Linked DNA regions of Homo sapiens: region 2 is linked to region 1. A link means that fine-mapping ties the variant in region 1 to the expression of a gene that starts in the linked region. Tissue or cell type: coronary artery. Region 1 holds a variant in brackets; the other region holds the start of a gene. All regions are shown on one strand. Distances are from middle to middle.

Region 1 (8,180 bases):
CCTGGGTGGCCTGGACTCCATCATCTATCCTCATCTGTCCACACTGGCGTTCACACAGAGAAGACAGGACAGGAATCCCCTCGGAAGATGCTCATGGAAGATTCTCACGAGGCTCCTGCCCCCTTTCTGAGCCAGGCCGGGTTTGCCACTCCTCGGGCGCGCACCTGAGACACTGAGTCAGCGCTTTCGAGAAAGGCTCCGGGTAGCATCTGTGGACCGTGAAGAAACCAGAGGGAAGCCCTGAGCCAGGCAGCGGCCCGTCCCCCTGCATAGCCTTCTCTTCAGGGTCCTCGTTCGGAGACCTATTTTGAGAGGTGATTGGAATAAAAGGTCCCGTCCGTGAGGAACTCTTTTTCTTGAGTCTTCAGAGTTACTTGCCATCGTATAGATTTTGCATTTACAATGTCCTCGCCTGGGATGTTCTCCTTGTGTGTGGGGTGGGGGACAGGGATGGATATCTGCAGTCGCCTGAATCCTCTCCGCCACAGCGGCACTTGATTGATGGTTAGAGATGGGGCATGTGGGGTCCAGGATGTGGCCTGCCCTGAACCTCACAAACCCGCCCCCTCAACACAGGCAGGGGCAGCAGTTGGGGGCCCGGGCCTGGAAGCCTTGGGATGCACCGGCCCACGGCACCCACCTGCCTGTTGGACAAGAGCATTTTTTTTTTTTTTTTGAGACGGAGTCTCGCTCTGTTGCCCAGGCTGGAGTGCAGTGGCACAATCTTGGCTCACTGCAACCTCTGCCTCGTGTGTTCAAGCGATTCTCTTGCCTTAGCCTCCTGAGTAGCTGGGATTACAGGTGTGCACCAACACAGACGGCTAATTTTTGTATTTTTAGTACAGACACAGTTCCACCATGTTGGCGAGGCTGGTCTTGAACTCCTGATCTCAAGTGATCCTCCCGCCTTGGCCTCCCAAAGTGCTGGGATTACAGGCATGAGCCACTGCGCCTGGTCGACAGGAGCATCTCTTGGCACACCCCATGCCCCTACAGTGTGGGCCGTGCAGGGGGCTGGGCTCACAGGGCGAGGTGGGTGGGGCAATGTTTAGAGGAGGAGGGAAGGAAGGGTGGGGAGCAGGGAGGCCCCATTTGCAGCTCCTGCCCCATGTCCTAGACTCACCGGCCCTTAGAGGCCTCTGGGGCTCTCCAAGGGGCCTGGGCTCCTTCCTCCCAGGGGTTGTGTGTGTCACGAGGCGTGGATCAAATCCAGGAGCTCTGGGGTCAGGCATCCTGGGAAGTTGGGATGGGAAAGCCCTCGAAGGCCCCTTCCCCTTCCTGATCTCCGTTTGGTTTTTTCTCCCTGACCAGGCTCTGAACTCAGAATGTGTTCCAACACCCCCTAGGTGCCTTCTCACCATTCAGGGTCCCAGGTGCTGGGGCTAATCCCCGGGCTCTTTTGCCTGCGTAATTGTGGCTTCTTGCCGGCGCAGCCAGACGCAGAGCCGGCTCTGACCTTTCCAGCCCGGCAGCTGCGGGCTCCTGGCCCGTGACTTGAGCCGCAGAGTCCCCTCGTCTGCCTCTGCCAACTTGGCCTTGTGGGCTAGAGTGGCCCCTGCTTAGGGGCAGCCAACTTCCAGAAGCTTCCGGCCCCCCTCCCTCGAGCTGGGTGTCGGACCAGCTCTGTGTTTCATTCTTCCTGGTTGGTTTCACAAAGCCTCATCCTCAGCCCCCTCAACAAGAAAAGAAACCAAAAGCACCAGTCTAGTTCCTAAATCCAAGGCTTCCAGGTCTTTCTGTCCCTCCGATGGTCTGTGCCCTCCTCACCCAACTGGGGCTGCCTTTATCGTAGATGGTCCCCACCCGCCCCCAGACCTTCTCGCCTGGAGTTTGCTTTCTGTTAGGGAGGCCCACGCCTGGCGCTGTGCTGTGACTCAGCCGGGGGCTGAGCTCTGCAGGGCCAGCCCACAGTCCCCCGCCAGAGTGCGACAGGCCCGGGTCGGCTGCTGACGCCACCTCATCCTGGAGCCAAACACCCGCTTCAGGGACAAAAGTGCAGAGGCTGGCCTTGGGCAGTGGCCCCCGAGAGGCAGCTGTGGGAAGCCATCCCTCTCTCCTCCTCCTCCTCCTCCTTCTCCTTCTCCTCCCCCATCCCCCTCCTCTCACTCCCCATCTTCCTCCCCATTCCCCTCCTCCTCCATCCTCCTCCACTCATCCCCCACTCCCATCCCCCATCCCCCTCCTCTCTCTCCTCCTCCTCTCCTCCTCTGGGCTTCACCTGCTGTTCCCAGCACTACTCTGACAGCCACCCCCAGATGGCCTGTGTCCCTGTCACCTCCCTCCCCACCTTCTTCTTTTGGAGCCCAGGGCCTGGCACGAGCCTGGCACTAGGGCCACTTGCCTTGTCCCAGGTGCTGGTGACACAGCCCCGGCAATCCTTCCCTTCCACAGGAGTGAGCCAGCCACAAGCATATGCATATCAAATGCATAAATGCTGTAAAAAGAAGAAACCAGGCCAGGCGCAGTGGCTCATGCCTGTAACCCCAGCACTTTGGGAGGCCGAAGTGGGCGGATCACCTGAGATAAGGAGTTCAAAACCTGGCCATCATGGTGAAACCCCATCTCTATTAAAAATACAAAAATTAGCCGGACGTGATGGCACAAACCTGTAATCCCAGCTACTCAGAAGGCTGAGGCAGGAGAATCGCTTGAACCTGGGAGGCGGAGGTTGCAGTGAGCTGAGATCGCGCCACTGCACTCCAGCCTGGGCGACAGATCGAGACTCTCAAAAAAAAGAAAAAGAAACCAGAAACAGGGCGGGCTCGTGAGGAGGTGAATGAAGAGGTGGTCAGGGAAGGTGAGAGAAGGACACTGAAGATTCAGGAAGGGCCTGAGAGACGAGGGAGCCAGCCACCTTGGGAAAGAACATTCTGGACCAGCAGGGGTCAGGAGGACAGTCCCGTGCAAAGGCCCTGTGCCCAGGGGACACAGGAGCAAACAGAAGGGCAGGAAATGGGGAGGATGTGGGCCCTGAGTGACATGAGAAGCAGCCACAGAGGGTTCTGGAACAGTCAGAAGCAGGGGTGGAAGCAGGAAGGGGGCAGTGCTGGGGCCTCAGGGCAGGGAGGAGGAGGCTGCCAGGGCCTAGGCTGACCAGCTGGCCTTGCCCAGGAAGTGCAGGACCCCGAGGTGGCACCTCCTTTCCACAGAGCAAGAGGAGGCCGGCTGGGTGCTGTGGCTCACAGCGGCAACTGTAATTCCAACACTTTGGGAGGTCGAGGCAGGCGGATCACCTGAGGCCAGGAGTTTGAGACCAGCCTGGCCAACGAGGTGAAACCTTATTTCTACTAAGAATACAAAAATTAGCCAGGTGTGGTGGCACGTGGTGCCTGTAATCCCAGCTACTCAGGAGGCTGAGGCAGGAGAATTGCTTAAACCCAGGAGGCAGAGGTTGCAGTGAGCCAAGATAGCGCCACTGCACTCCAGCCTGGGCGACAGAACGAGAGTCTGTCTCAAAAAAATGATACTACTAATAATAAATTAAAAATTTTTTAAAAATTTAAGAGGAGGTCCAGTCAAACCAAGTCTCGAGTGGACAAGAAGCTGCTGGCCACACAGAGAGAGCCGGAACAGGTGGAGGAACTGCAAGCACGGAGCCTCTGAACTTCTGTGGGGAAGGGGCAGAGGGGGTCAGGGCTCAGGCCAGAAGCCCCTACAGGGCCGGGCGCGGTGGCTCATGCCTGTAATCCCAGCACTTTGGGAAGGCAAGGCGGGTGGGCGCCTGTGGTCCCAGCTACTTGGGAGGCTGAGGCAGGAGAATGCCGCGAACCAGGGAGGCGGAGCTTGCAGTGATCGGAGATCACGCCACTGCACTCCAGCCTGGGCGACAGAGCAAGACTCCGTCTCAAAAGAAAAAATAAAATAAAATAAAATAAAAAAGAAGCCCCTACAGGAGCTGGGGTGGGCACTTGCAGGGATCTGTTCCTGACGCTTGGCATCAGCCACTTCTTTTTTTTTTTTTTTTTTTTGAGACAAAGTCTCACTCTGTCGCCCTGGCCGGAGGGCAGTGGCGCGATCTCCACTTACTGAAACCTCTGTCTCTCAGGTTCAAGCAATTCTCCTGCCTCAGCCTCCCGAATAGCTGGGATTACAGGCGTCCGCCACCACGCCCAGCTAATTTTTGCATTTTTTAGTAGAGACAGGATTTCGCCATGTTGGCTAGGCTGGTCTCGAACTCCTGACCTCGGGCAATC[C/T]GCCCGCCTCGGCCTCCCAAAGTGCTGGGATTACAGGCGTAAGCCATCTCGCCCGGCCAAGCATCAGCCTCTTCTCAAGGAGACTTCGAGTGAGGGCGAGGATTCCCCGAGCTCCCACTCAGCCTTGCCGCTCAGCCCCGTGGGTTTCCAAAGCCACTTCCAACCCAGCACCTCCGAGGGTCCTCACAGATGGAGAAATGAAGGCTCAGGACAGGCACACAATCCAAGCAACAGCCGATAATTGTTTTTTATTTTTTTTACAGATAGGGGTCTCACCATGTTGTCCAGGCTGGTCTCAAACTCCTAGGCTCAAACGATCCTCCCACCTTAGCCTCCCAAAGTGCTGGGATTACAGGCCTGAGCCAGTATGCTCAGCCAACCATTGTTTATCTATCATGAATGTGTGCCAGGCAGCTCCGGAACTCACCCATAGGGTGGCATCGTCATTCACTGCTCAGGCACAGAGAGGGTGAGGAACCTGCCCCAGGTCACACAGCAATGGTGACCTCCTCTTTCCACTGCCTCCTTAAACCTGAAGGATCCATTGACCTTCTCCCAGCTCAGGCACAGTCAGGACCCCAAAATTGGTTGGGAATAGGGTGTGGGGGGTAAGCAAGATCGGCTGCTGCTTTAAAACTCACTCCCCTGATTGTAACATCAGCTGAGGGACAGGATTTGAGGCACATAGTTAGGTGCCTGGAGGGCTTAACCCTACCGTGCCTCAGTTTCCTCCCTGGTCGGGGGGATAACAGCAGCTCTACCTCATGGGGGTTATTGGGCAGATTGCATGAAGGGAGGATGCCAGTAATCATTTTAGGACTGGCCTGGTATACAGCAAGTGCTCAATAAATGCTTGAAATAATCTAAGATGGCATCTCGCCTAGCACCTGTGGGGTGTCCAGAACCTCACGGGGGACCCTCCATCTTTACAACTATGGGGTTGGCGTGAGCAGCTCATTGTCCCAGGGCACCCAGGCAGTGGCCCCTCTGGATTGGCCAGTGCCATGGGGAATAGAAAGGCCGCTGTCCTCTGTGCCCTGGAGGCTGGCTTAGGAAGCCTGGCCCCAGGCCAGTGACCGTTCACCTTGCAGGCCTGCGATCCTGCCCTTCGAGCCGCCTCCCAGCCTGGGCCTGGCCTCTGCGGCCACTGGGCAGTGAGTGACTCACCCCTGCCCCGCCTCCACTGGAACCAGGCACCGAAATAGTCACCCAGCTCGCTCTCGGGAGTGGCCGTGGAAATATTTCAGGGCTGCATTCAGCACCTAAAAATACTCCTCACGTCCTCAAGTGTCTTCCCCACCCTCATCTCCCCTCCTCTGCACCACCAGGGCCAGACCCTCCTTGCCCCACCCCTCCAGCATCAAGTAACTCAGACATCCTGGCCCCAGAGCCTTCTCAAAGGTCAGCTTCTTCTGAAACCCCCTGAAATCTCAGACCAGGTTGGGGAGGCCGGGGCTCAGTGACATTGTCTGGGGAGACCTTCACTGCCCAGCAGTTTTCCTTAAACATTAAAAAAATGGCTGGGGGTGGTGGCTCACACCTGTAATCCCAGCACTTTGGGAGGCTGAGGCGGGCGGATCACGAGGTCAGGAGTTCAAGACCAGCCTGGCTAACACGGTGAAACCCAGTCTCTACTAAAAATACAGAAATTAGGCGGGCATGGTGGTGAGCGCCAGTAATCCCATCTACTCGGGAGGCTGAGGCAGGAGAATTGCTTTAACCTGGGAGGTGGGGGTTGCAGTGAGCCGAGATCATGCCACTGCACTCCAGCCTGGGTGACAGAGCAAGACTGTCTTGGGAAAAAAAATTAAAAATTAAAAAAATGGGCCAGGTGCAGTGGCTTATGCCTGTAATCCCAGCACTTTGGGAGGCTGAGGTGGGTGGACCACCTGAAGTCAGGAGTTTGACACCAGCCTGGGAAACATGGTGAAACCCCGTCTCTACTAAAAAATATAAAAATTGGCCGGGCGTGGTGGCTCACACCTGTAATCCCAGCACTTTGGGAGGCCGAGGCGGGCGGATCATGAAGTCAAGAGATGGAGACCATCCTGGCTAACATGGTGAAACCCCGTCTCTACTAAAAATACAAAAATTAGCCAGGCCTGGTGGCACACACCTGTAGTCCCAGCTACTCGGGAGGCTGAGGCAGAAGAATTGCTTGAACCCGGGAGGCAGAGGTTGCAATGAGCCGAGGTCACACCACTGCACTCCAGCCTGGCAACAGAGTGAGACTCTGTCTCAAAAAAACCAAAACAAACAAACAAAAAAATTAACCGGGTGTGGTGGCAGGCACCTGTAATCCCAGCTACTCAGGAGGCTGAGGCACGAGAATTGCTTTAACCCGGGAGGCAGAGGTTGCAGTGAGCTGAGATCTCGCCACTGCACTCCAGCCTGGGTAAGAAGAGCAAAACTTCATCTCAAAAAAAAAAAAATTAATTAGATTTAAAAATGGTTCTTGGCCGGGCACAGTAGCTCAAGCCTGTAATCCCAATACTTTGGGACGCCAAGGCGGGCGGATGGCTGGAGCCCAGGATCCCAGTCTGGGCAACATAGTGAGACCCTACCTCTACAAAACAAATGAAATTAGCCAAGCACGGCGGTACACACCTGTAGTCCCAGCTGCTGAGGAGGCTGAAGGGGGAGGATCACTTGAGTAGGGAGGTTGAGGCTACAGTGAGCCATGATTGCGCCACTGCACTCCAGCCTGGGTGACAAAGCAAGACCCCCCCCCCACCAAAAAAAAAAAGTTCTTGCCGTTTGCATTGTTGAGGCAGCCAGAAGCAGGCCCTTTTGACAGAGCCCCCAGCTGGTCTGAATTCCACCTCCTCACCCTCCCACTGGCTTCGAGACCCCACTTAACTTATAGGGTCCTCTCCCTCCCAGGGTGGGAGAGGGGTGTGCACTGTGCCCTCCAAGATACCCTCACACCCTGCTGTCATCTCAGGCTGTCAGCCTCCCTGGTCATATTCAACGGCCTCTGTGGCCCCAAGGTGCGGTCAACTTTGTCCTAACCACCAAGCACCTTGACCTTTCTGGTGGCCTAAGGAAGGTGGGGATAACAGAGCACACAGAACTGTACCTCGGTTCCACCTGCTGGGGTGGAATCCAGCGTTTCTCGATCACCTGAGGCTTCCAATTAGAGAGAATGGCAGGTGTCAAGGCACTGAAGAAAGTGTGTGCTGGGTGTGTTGAAAAGGCAGTCAGCTGGCTGGCGAGCAAAGTGAGGGCGAGGGAGCAGGGCACAGTGGCTCACGCCTGTAATCTCAGCACTTTGAGAGGCCGAGGCAGGCGGATCACCTGAGGTCAGGAGTTCGAGTCCAGCCTGGCCACAACATGGCGAAACCCCGTCTCTACTAAAAATACAAAAATTAGCCGGGCGTGGCTGTGTATGCCTGTAGTCCAAGCTACTTGGGAGGCTGAGGCAGTAGAATCACTTGAACCCAGGAAGCAGAGGTTGCAGTCAGCCGAGATCATGGCACTGCACACTAGCCTGAGTGACAACGTGAAACTCCATCTCAAAAAAAAACAAAAAGCAAGGGTAAGGGTACCGGGCAAGGGCTGGCACACTGTAGATGTGAGGGCCTCCCTGGCCCTCTGTTTTCCCTTAGAGAGGATGAGTCAACCTAGAGACACCTTCAGAGAACCAACCTCCCTGAACCACTTAAGAAGCAGTTTTGTTTTGTTTGTAATGACTAAATTCCCTACTTTATTCAGATTTCCTTCGTTTTTACCTAATGTACTGTACTTAACAAAAAAAACTGAGGTGGTTGGGTGCGGTGGCTCACGCCTATAATCCCAGCACTTTGGGAGGCCGAGGCCGGCGGATCACCTGCAGTCAGGAGTTCGAGACCAGACCAGCCTGACCAACATGGAGAAACCCCGTCTCTATTAAAAATACAAAATTAGCCAGGTGTGGTGGCACATACCTGTAATCTCAGCTACTCAGGAGTCTGAGGAAGAAGAATTGCTTGAACCCAGGAGGCAGAG
Region 2 (8,171 bases), 21 kb before region 1:
ACTGCGCCTGGCCTGGCTTCCTCTTATAAGGCTCCCTGGGCTTTCTCAGACCTCCAGAGTCCACTCCACCTGGATGTGGTGCCAGTCAGAAGGATCAGGGAATTGGGATTTCGAACTGCTGGGCTCAAACGATCATCCTGCCTCGGCCTCCTGAGTAGCTGGGACTACAGGCGTGCTCCGCCATGCCCAGCAGGAAAATCTTTGAGAAGTTGAACAAGGGTTCCCCAGTTCAGCTCTGAGAGGCATAGGGTCCTTTCAGCCAGAAGTTCCTCACCCTGGACTTGGTAAGAAAAGGCTCTCAGGGCAGTGCTGAGACTCAGGAGGCTGGGATACAAGGAGTCACTTTATGAGGTCCCCTATTGCTCATTTGTAGGCCTGAAAGTCAAGGCATGTGGCCAGGGGATGGAACCTTTGATTGGCACCTAGATAAGCCTCTTCTAGGAATTCAGGTTATAGTCCTGCTTGCAAGTGTATGTAACTATAGGCATGTCATTGGCCGGGCACAGTGGTTCACTCCTGCAATCCCAGCGCTTTGGGAGGCCGAGGCAGGTGGATCACCCGAGGTCAGGAGTTTGAGACCAGCCTGGCCAACATGGTGAAACCCCGTCTCTACTAAAAATACAAAAATTAGCTGTGTGTGGTGGTGCACACCTGTAATCCCAGCTACTTGGGAGGCTGAGGCAGGAGAATCGCTTGAACCCAGGAGGTGGAGGTTGCAGTGAGCCGAGATCGCGCCACTGTACTCCAGCCTGAGTGACAGAATGAGACTCTGTTTCAAAAAAAAAAAAAAAAAAAAACTATAGGCATGTCACTGTGGAGAAGTAAACTACTCAAATAAATGCCTATGTTTAAAGCTACCACAGCTGATACTTGATGTAATGAGTAGTAGCCCCTAAAAATATATATCCCAGCTGGGCATGGTGGCTCATGCCTATAATCCTGGCACTTTGGGAGGCCAAGGTGGGAGGATCTCTTGAGCCCAGGAGTTGGAGGCTAGCACGGTGAGGGCAGGGCAACAAGCAGACCCCCATCTCTACAAAATGAATAAATAAATAAATTAAATTAATAAATAAGCTGGGCGTGGCGGTGACACCTGTGTGCAGTCTCAGCTACTCAGAGGCTGAGATGGGAGGATCACTTGACCCCAGGAAGTTGCGGATGCAATAAGCCATATGGCACCACTATACTCCAACCTGGGCAAGAGGGACGCAGTCGTAAAAAAATTTACACACACACACACACACGTATATCCAAATCCTAACCTGCTGGTAGCTGTGAATGTGACTGTAATTGAAATAGGGTCTTTGCAACTTGATATACAGTGAGGTTCATTTGTTTGTTTCCATTTTTAGGGATTTCTTTTGATTTTTCCTTTTGACTTTTATTTTTAATTATGCTTCCAAAGTTGAAACTAGACAATAAGGTACACTGAAAGAAGTCTGGCTTTCATTCTTATGATTTCATCTTGTTCCCTTATTCTCCCAGGTTACTTTTTTTTTTTTTTTTTTTTTTTTGAGATGGAGTCTTGCTCTGTCACCCAGGCTGGAGTGCAATGGCATGCACTGTAACCTCCTCCTAACCGGGTTCAAGTGATTCTCCTGCCTCAGCCTTCTGAGTAGCTGGGACTACAGGCACGCGCCACCACGCCCAGATAATTTTTGTATTTTTATAGAGATGGGGTTTTACCATGTTGGCCAGGCTGGTCTCGAACTCATGACCTCAGGTGATCCACCTGCCTCAGCCTCCCAAAATGCTGGGATTAAAGTGTGAGACACCGTGCCTGGCCTATATTTTGGTTCATGCTTCTTTTGTTTGTTTGTTTTGAGACAGTGTGTTGCTCTGTCACCCAGGCTGGAGTGCAGAGGCAGGATCACAGCTTACTGCAACCTCTGCCTCCTAGGCTCAAGCAGTTCTCCCTGCTCAGCCTCCTGAGTAGCTGAGACTTCATGCACAGTCACCACACTTGGCTACTTGTTTGCATTTTTTGTAGATTCAGGGTTTTGCTGCTGTATTTCCCAGGCTGGTCTGGAACTCCTGGGCTCAAGTGGTCCAGCCACCTCAGCCTCTCAGAGTGCTGGGATTACAGGCATGGGCCACCGCTCCTGGCCTGGTTCGTACTTTTTACGTTTCTTTTTTTTTTTTTTTTTGAGACAGAGTCTCACTCTGTCGCCCAGGCTGCAGTGCAGTGGCACGTTCTCGGCTCACTGCAACCTCTACCTCCCGGGGTCAAGCAATTCTCCTGCCTCAGCCCCCAGAGTAGCTGGGATTACAGGTGCCCGCCACCATGCCCAGATAATTTTTTTGTATTTTTAGTAGAGATGGGGTTTCACCATATTGGCCAGGCTGGTCTCAAACTCCTGACCTCAGGTGATCTGCCCACCGCGGCCTCCCAAAGTGCTGCAATTACAGGCATGAGCCACTGAGCCTGGCCTTTATGTTTCTTATTAAAAATATAAGCAAATTTGGTTCACGTGCTTGGTGTGGTTAAAAAAAAAAAATATATATATATATATATATACACACACACATGCAAATATATATACACATACACATGCATGTATTTCTCTTTTTGCACACAAAAGAGGACATATTGTAAAAACTGTTCTCTACCTTGGTTTTTTTCACTTAAGATATCCAGACACCATTCAATGTCAGTATATGAAGATTGTCTTCATTCCTTTTTATAGCTGTATTACTCTATTATTTGGTCGCATTGGGTTTTTTTCAGTCTTTTGATATTATGAATAATGTCAATAAATAGCATCAGTCATTTAAAAACGAGGCTGGGCGTGGTGACTCATGCCTGTAATCCCAGCACTTTGGGAGGCCAAGGTGGAAGGATCACCTGAGGTCAGGAGTTCGAGGCCACCTCCTGGCCAACATGGCAAAACCCCGTCTCTGCTAAAAATACAAAAATTAGCTGGGCATTGTGGCATGTGCCTGTAATCCTAGCCACTCGGGTGGCTGAGGCAGAAGAATCCCTTGAACCCAGGAGGGAGGGGTTGCAGTGAGCTGAGATCGCACCACTGCACTGCAGCCTGGGTGATAGAATGAGACTCCATCTCAAAAAAAAAAGAACAGGGTCTTCGCAGATGTAATTAAGGATCTTGAGATGACATTATCCTGAAATTTATGGTGGACTTAATAAGAGAAAGGAGTGTCCTTTACAAGAAAAAGGAGCGGCCGGGCTCGGTGGCTCACGCCTGTAATCCCAGCACTTTGGGAGGCAGAGGAGGGAGGATTGCTTGACCCCAGGAGTTCGAGACCAGCCTGGACAACATAGGGAGACCCTGTCTCTACTACAAAAAAAAAAAAGAAAAAAAAAAGGAGAGATACATTTGAGACTCAGAGACACACAGAGAAGGCCAAGTGACGACAAAGGCAGAACGCGGAAGGCTGCATCTACAAGCCAAGAACTCCAAGGATTCCCAGCAGCCACCAGAACCCAGGAGAGAGGCATAGGACACACAGATTGTCCTCAGAGCCTCCAGAGGGAGCCAACTGTGCTGACAACCTCACTTCATTATTCTGATCTCTTGAATTGTGAGAAAATCACGTTCTGTTGTTTTAAACCTCGCAGTGTGTGGGCATTTGTTACAGCAGGCCCCAGAAAACTAATAGCATTCGCCTATTTACTTTGTTTACTGTCTGTCTCCCTGAGGGCCACGAATTTTGTGTTTTGTTCATTCTGTGAGCAGAAACAGGCACAGAGTAGGTAATAAGTACTTAATATGTGCCAGACGCTGTTTTAAGTGCTTTTACATGGTTTCATTCATTTCATCCTTACAGTAAGCAACGTTTTGGAGCAGACACTACTATTTACAGGGAGCAAACTGAGGCCCCGAGGGTCGTGGTCAGGATTCCAACCTATTAAATGATGTTCCCTGGATAATTACAGAATCAGAAAACTAGGAGTCGGAAGGGCAACATCAGGCACGGCCCAATCACCACGAAGCCTCGATTTCTCTCTCTCTACTGCAAACGAAAGGCATTAACTGGCTTTGCCCACAGCGTGGAGCCCAGGAGACCGACGAAGGTTTCACCTGCGCACGCATTTCCTCACAATGCACCCCGCGCCGGCGCGCGTTGCTCCGCCTCCTTTTGCATTACAAGCCGCGGCACTTTACGGCTCTCGTCCTCGTTCCTCCGGCGGGAACACGGCCCGCCCCGCCCTTTCGCCCAGCGGGCCCCGCCCTACTCCGCGTGGATTGGTTGACCGCCCTTCGAGCCCGGTGCTGACTGGCTTGCGTCTCTGCCACTTTCTTTCAGCTTAGTGGCGCGCGGCGCGGCGACGACCGCCGGGAGCGTGTGCAGCGGCGGCGGCGGAAGTGGCCGGCGAGCCCGGTCCCCGCCGGCACCATGGTGAGGGCAGGGCAACTGCGGGGTCTCACCGGGAGGCGGGAACAGCAGTCGTTGGGATCCCTGCGGGCGGGCGCTGTGGGCTTGGTTGGCGCGGGGCGAACGTAAGGTCCGAGCCTCGAGTCCCGCCCCCCGGCACGAGGCTGGGAAACTGAGGCCGGAGACTGCAGGTGGCTCTATCACGTTCGTGTCTGGGATTTAGGGTTGCACGGACTTGTATCCACAGTACAGTGGCCTCGCCTTAGTTAGTTTTCCCAGTTTGCAGGTGGGGAAACTGAAGTAAAAAAAAAAAAGGTGGGGATCCGCCAAATGCAGCAGAGAGTTTTTGGGCAGGGAAGGGGTCCCTTACGCTTCGGGCCCAGTCTGACCTCCCTGATTGAAAACTAGAGTGCTGGGAAGTAGGGGGCCAGTCTGAGTTGTGAAACTTAGTTTTAGGAATTTCAGAGCTTGCAAGATGCTAGCAGCACAGCCTCCTAGGCCTCTTGGTTTCTGGCTGAAAAGCAGGCCTGGTGCTGGGGTGTGGTGTTTCTCCTTGGGTCACATAGCATGTCATTCCAGCGGAAGGGGGCGTTTTGAGCTAGGGGTGGACAAAGTACATCCTCCCAATACAAAGAAGGAAAAATTGCGGCCCAGGTCTCTGCAGGGCCCATTGTTTATGATTCTGGAAGTTCTGGATCTGGGCTAGAAAGTGCCCGTGTCCCCCACTGTGCAGATCGGAAAAGGAATTCAGAGCTGGGAGTTTCCTGGCCCATCAGCTTCTGGTCCTTCTTTTTTCAATGAGAGAAACCAAGGCCCTTGTTGGGGATGTGACTTCCAGACTCTGTGAGACAGTGGGAGATTCAGTAACCAGGAGGGTCCCCCAGGGGTGGCTGCATCAGAACTGTGGATTAGTGAGAACTCTCCCTAAATCCGGCTGGTCAGTGTGTAACCACCCAATGGGTTCACCTTGCCTGTCTTCCTAGACAGATTTATCAAGACAGGGGAATTGCAGTGGAGAAAGAGTATTTCACACAGAGCCAGCTATGCAGGAGACCAGAGTTTTATTATTGCTCAAATCAGTCTCCGCTGAGCATTAGGGGATCCGAGTTTTGAAAGATAATTTGGCGGGTAGGGGCTCAGGAAGTGGGGAGTGCTGATTGGTTGGAGCTTCCTGAGGTCGATGGAGTCATCGACGGGAGTGTTGAAGTGAGGTTTTCTTGCTGTCTTCTGTTCCTGGGTGGGATCGCAGGACTGGTTGAGCCAGATTACTGGTCTGGGTAGTGTCAGCTGATCCGTCAAGTACGGGGTCTGCAAAATATCTCAAGCACTGATCTTAGATTTTATAATAGTGATGTTATCCCAAGGAGCAATTTGGGGAGTTTCAGACTCTTGCAGCCAGAGGCTGAAGTTACCTAAATGGTAATTTCTAATCTTGTAGCTTATTTGTTAGTCCTACAAAGGCAGACTGGTCCCCAGGCAAGAAGAGGGTCTTTTCGGGAAAGGGCTATTACCAATTTTGTTCCAGAGTCAAACTATAAACTAAATCCCTTCCCAAGGTTAGTTTGGCCTATACCTAGGAATAAGCAAAGATGGCGTAAAGGTTAGAAGCACAATGGAGTCGGTTAGGTCTGATCTCTTTTCACTGTCATAATTTCCCGCTACAATTTTTGCAAAGGCGATTTCAAGTGCAAGGATTCAGAGAGCCTGTCCCTCTCTGCGGTGTACTTAGAGGGCAGAGTTGGCATGTAAGACTGGGCAGAGCTGGAAGGATCCATCCCTGTGTTAAGTTTTGTGGGAGCAGGATCTTCGTTTTTCTTCCGACTAGATTCCCAGTATGTAGAACGGTGCGTGGGCAAAGTGTGAACTCATTCATTCAGCCCCTTCCCACCTTCTGAACATCCAGAGTCCTGGCTGTCCAGCTGTTTCCTGGAGGAGTAGCCGAGAATGGACAAGCCATCACAGGATACACACTTCCAGTTCCCTGTCGTCAGGGCAGGGCCAGAAGGAGTGGCCTAGGTTAGCAGCGGGGATGGGCAGTCCTGGACAGCTTCCTGAATTAGGAGGCACTGGGTTTAGGTCCTCGTGGATCTAGACCTGAGAACCAGATTCCAGATGCTCCAAGAAAGCCCAGAGAAAGGAATTCTCTTTTCTGAATTTTCTTGTGACCTTCCATAAACCAGGGTGGGGCCTCTCCTATCACACTTGGCACTTTTTTTCTTTTTCTATTTCATTTTATTTATTTTTTTGAGACAGAGTCTTGTTCTGTCGCCCAGGCTGAAGTGCAGTGGTGTAATCTCAGCTCACTGCAACCTCCACCTCTCCGAGAGTGATTCTCCTACCTCAGCCTCCCAAGTAGCTGTGATTACAGGCACGCACCACCACACCTGGATAATTTTTGTATTTTCAGTAGAGATCAGGTTTCACTATGTTGGCCAGGCTAGTCTTGAACCCCTGAGCTCAGGTGATCCACCCACCTCGGCCTCTCAAAGTGCTGGGATTACAGGCGTGAGCCACTGCACTCTAGACTTTTTTTGTTTTTCAGAGCTGAGATCTCACTCTCATCCAGGCTGGAGTGCAGTGGCACAATCACTACAGCCTCAACCTCACTGGCCCGTGATCCTCCCACCTGACCTCAGCCTCCCAAGTAGCTGGGACCACAGGCATGCATCACTAAACCTGGCTAATTTCTAGATTTTTTGTAGAGACAGAATCTTTTGTGTTGCCCAAGCTGGTCTCATACTCCTGGGCTCAAGCGATCCTCCCACCTCAGTCTCCCAAAGTGCTGTGATTGCAGGCACAAGCCACTGTGCCCAGCCTCACCTGGCACTTTGATGTATCTTCTTTTAAGATTTTGAGGATCCACCCCTTCCTCTGACCTCTCTCCAACAGAGTTTGGAGATGAGGATGTAGGAGAAATCAAGATATATGGTCACAGGCCCAGGCCATTGCAGCCTGGGAGGGCCTGGGAGTCAGGCAGCTCCCTGTCCCGCAGCCACTCCTTCCCTTACCTGTGGGGTGGGGCGAGTGTTCTGCCTTCCCTGCATGCCTCCCTGGGTAGTGTGTGCATTTTTCTTGTGTATTTATTCAGCAAATATTTACCGAGTCCCTCTCATGTGCCTGGCCTTGTGCTTGGCCCTGGACAAAGTCCACACCCACTTTGAGTGTTCCAGTCTAGCGAGGGACACAGGTAATAAACAAGGTAATTAAAGACTGGCTGCATCCTATGATGGAAACAAACACCCATGAGGCAGAGGGTGGCCATTAAAAGGGCCTGGCCAAAGGAGGTGACGTTTCAGCAGCCTGGGGAAGGTCACCCCAGGCAGAGGCAATAGCAGAAGCAAAGGTCAGGTGGCAGGAATGGGTGTGGCGGCCAGTGTGGCAGAGCCTGTCTGCCTTGACTCTATAGCGGGCCTGAGGAGTGTTGTGAGAGTGGGTCTGCACCAACCCTATTTGGGTTTTTTGTTGTTGTTGTTGTTGTTTTTGAGATGAAGTGTCACTGTCACCCAGGCTGGAGTGCAGTGGCACAATCTCAGCTCACTGCAGCCTCTGCCTCCTGGGTTCAAGCGATTCTTCTGCCTCAGCCTCCCAAGTAGCTGGGACTACAGGTGTGCGCCACCATGCTTGGCTAATTTTTGTATTTTTAGTAGAGATGGGGTTTCACCATATTGGCCAGGCTGGTCTCGAACTCCTGACCTCGTGATCCGCCCACCTTGGCCTCCCAAAGTGCTGGGATTACAGGCATGAGCCACGGCGCCTAGCCAGTCTTTCTTTTGTTTTGTTTTTTTGTTTTTTGTTTTTTTTTGAAACAGTCTCGCTCTGTTGCCCAGGCTGGA

Evidence for each region. PIP is the estimated chance that this variant, and not a neighbour inherited with it, causes the effect.
Region 2: it holds the start of LSM4, and the variant in region 1 is fine-mapped to the expression of LSM4 in coronary artery (GTEx, PIP above 0.99). The same link has a PIP of 0.9 or more in atrial appendage, blood mononuclear cells, left ventricle, uterus and whole blood.

Annotation. Positions count from the first base shown.
Region 1 is chr19:18,298,403-18,306,582 of GRCh38, reverse strand. It overlaps LSM4 (LSM4 homolog, U6 small nuclear RNA and mRNA degradation associated), which reads left to right. Exons shown (of 5, transcript NM_012321.5): 5 at 1-347. Among named protein-coding and RNA genes, the nearest start is that of MIR3188, 20 kb to the right of the region's middle. RefSeq lists enhancers at 1,109-1,614, 1,505-1,884 and a cis regulatory region at 5,114-5,533. The variant C/T (reference allele first, on the strand shown) is at 4,194.
Region 2 is chr19:18,319,209-18,327,379 of GRCh38, reverse strand. It overlaps LSM4 (LSM4 homolog, U6 small nuclear RNA and mRNA degradation associated), which reads left to right and starts at 4,304. Exons shown (of 5, transcript NM_012321.5): 1 at 4,304-4,362. The coding sequence starts at 4,360. LOC105372300 (a long non-coding RNA gene) reads right to left here. Exons shown (of 2, transcript XR_007067157.1): 2 at 5,383-5,646. RefSeq lists enhancers at 3,163-3,765, 3,964-4,183, 8,020-8,171 and a silencer at 4,244-4,423.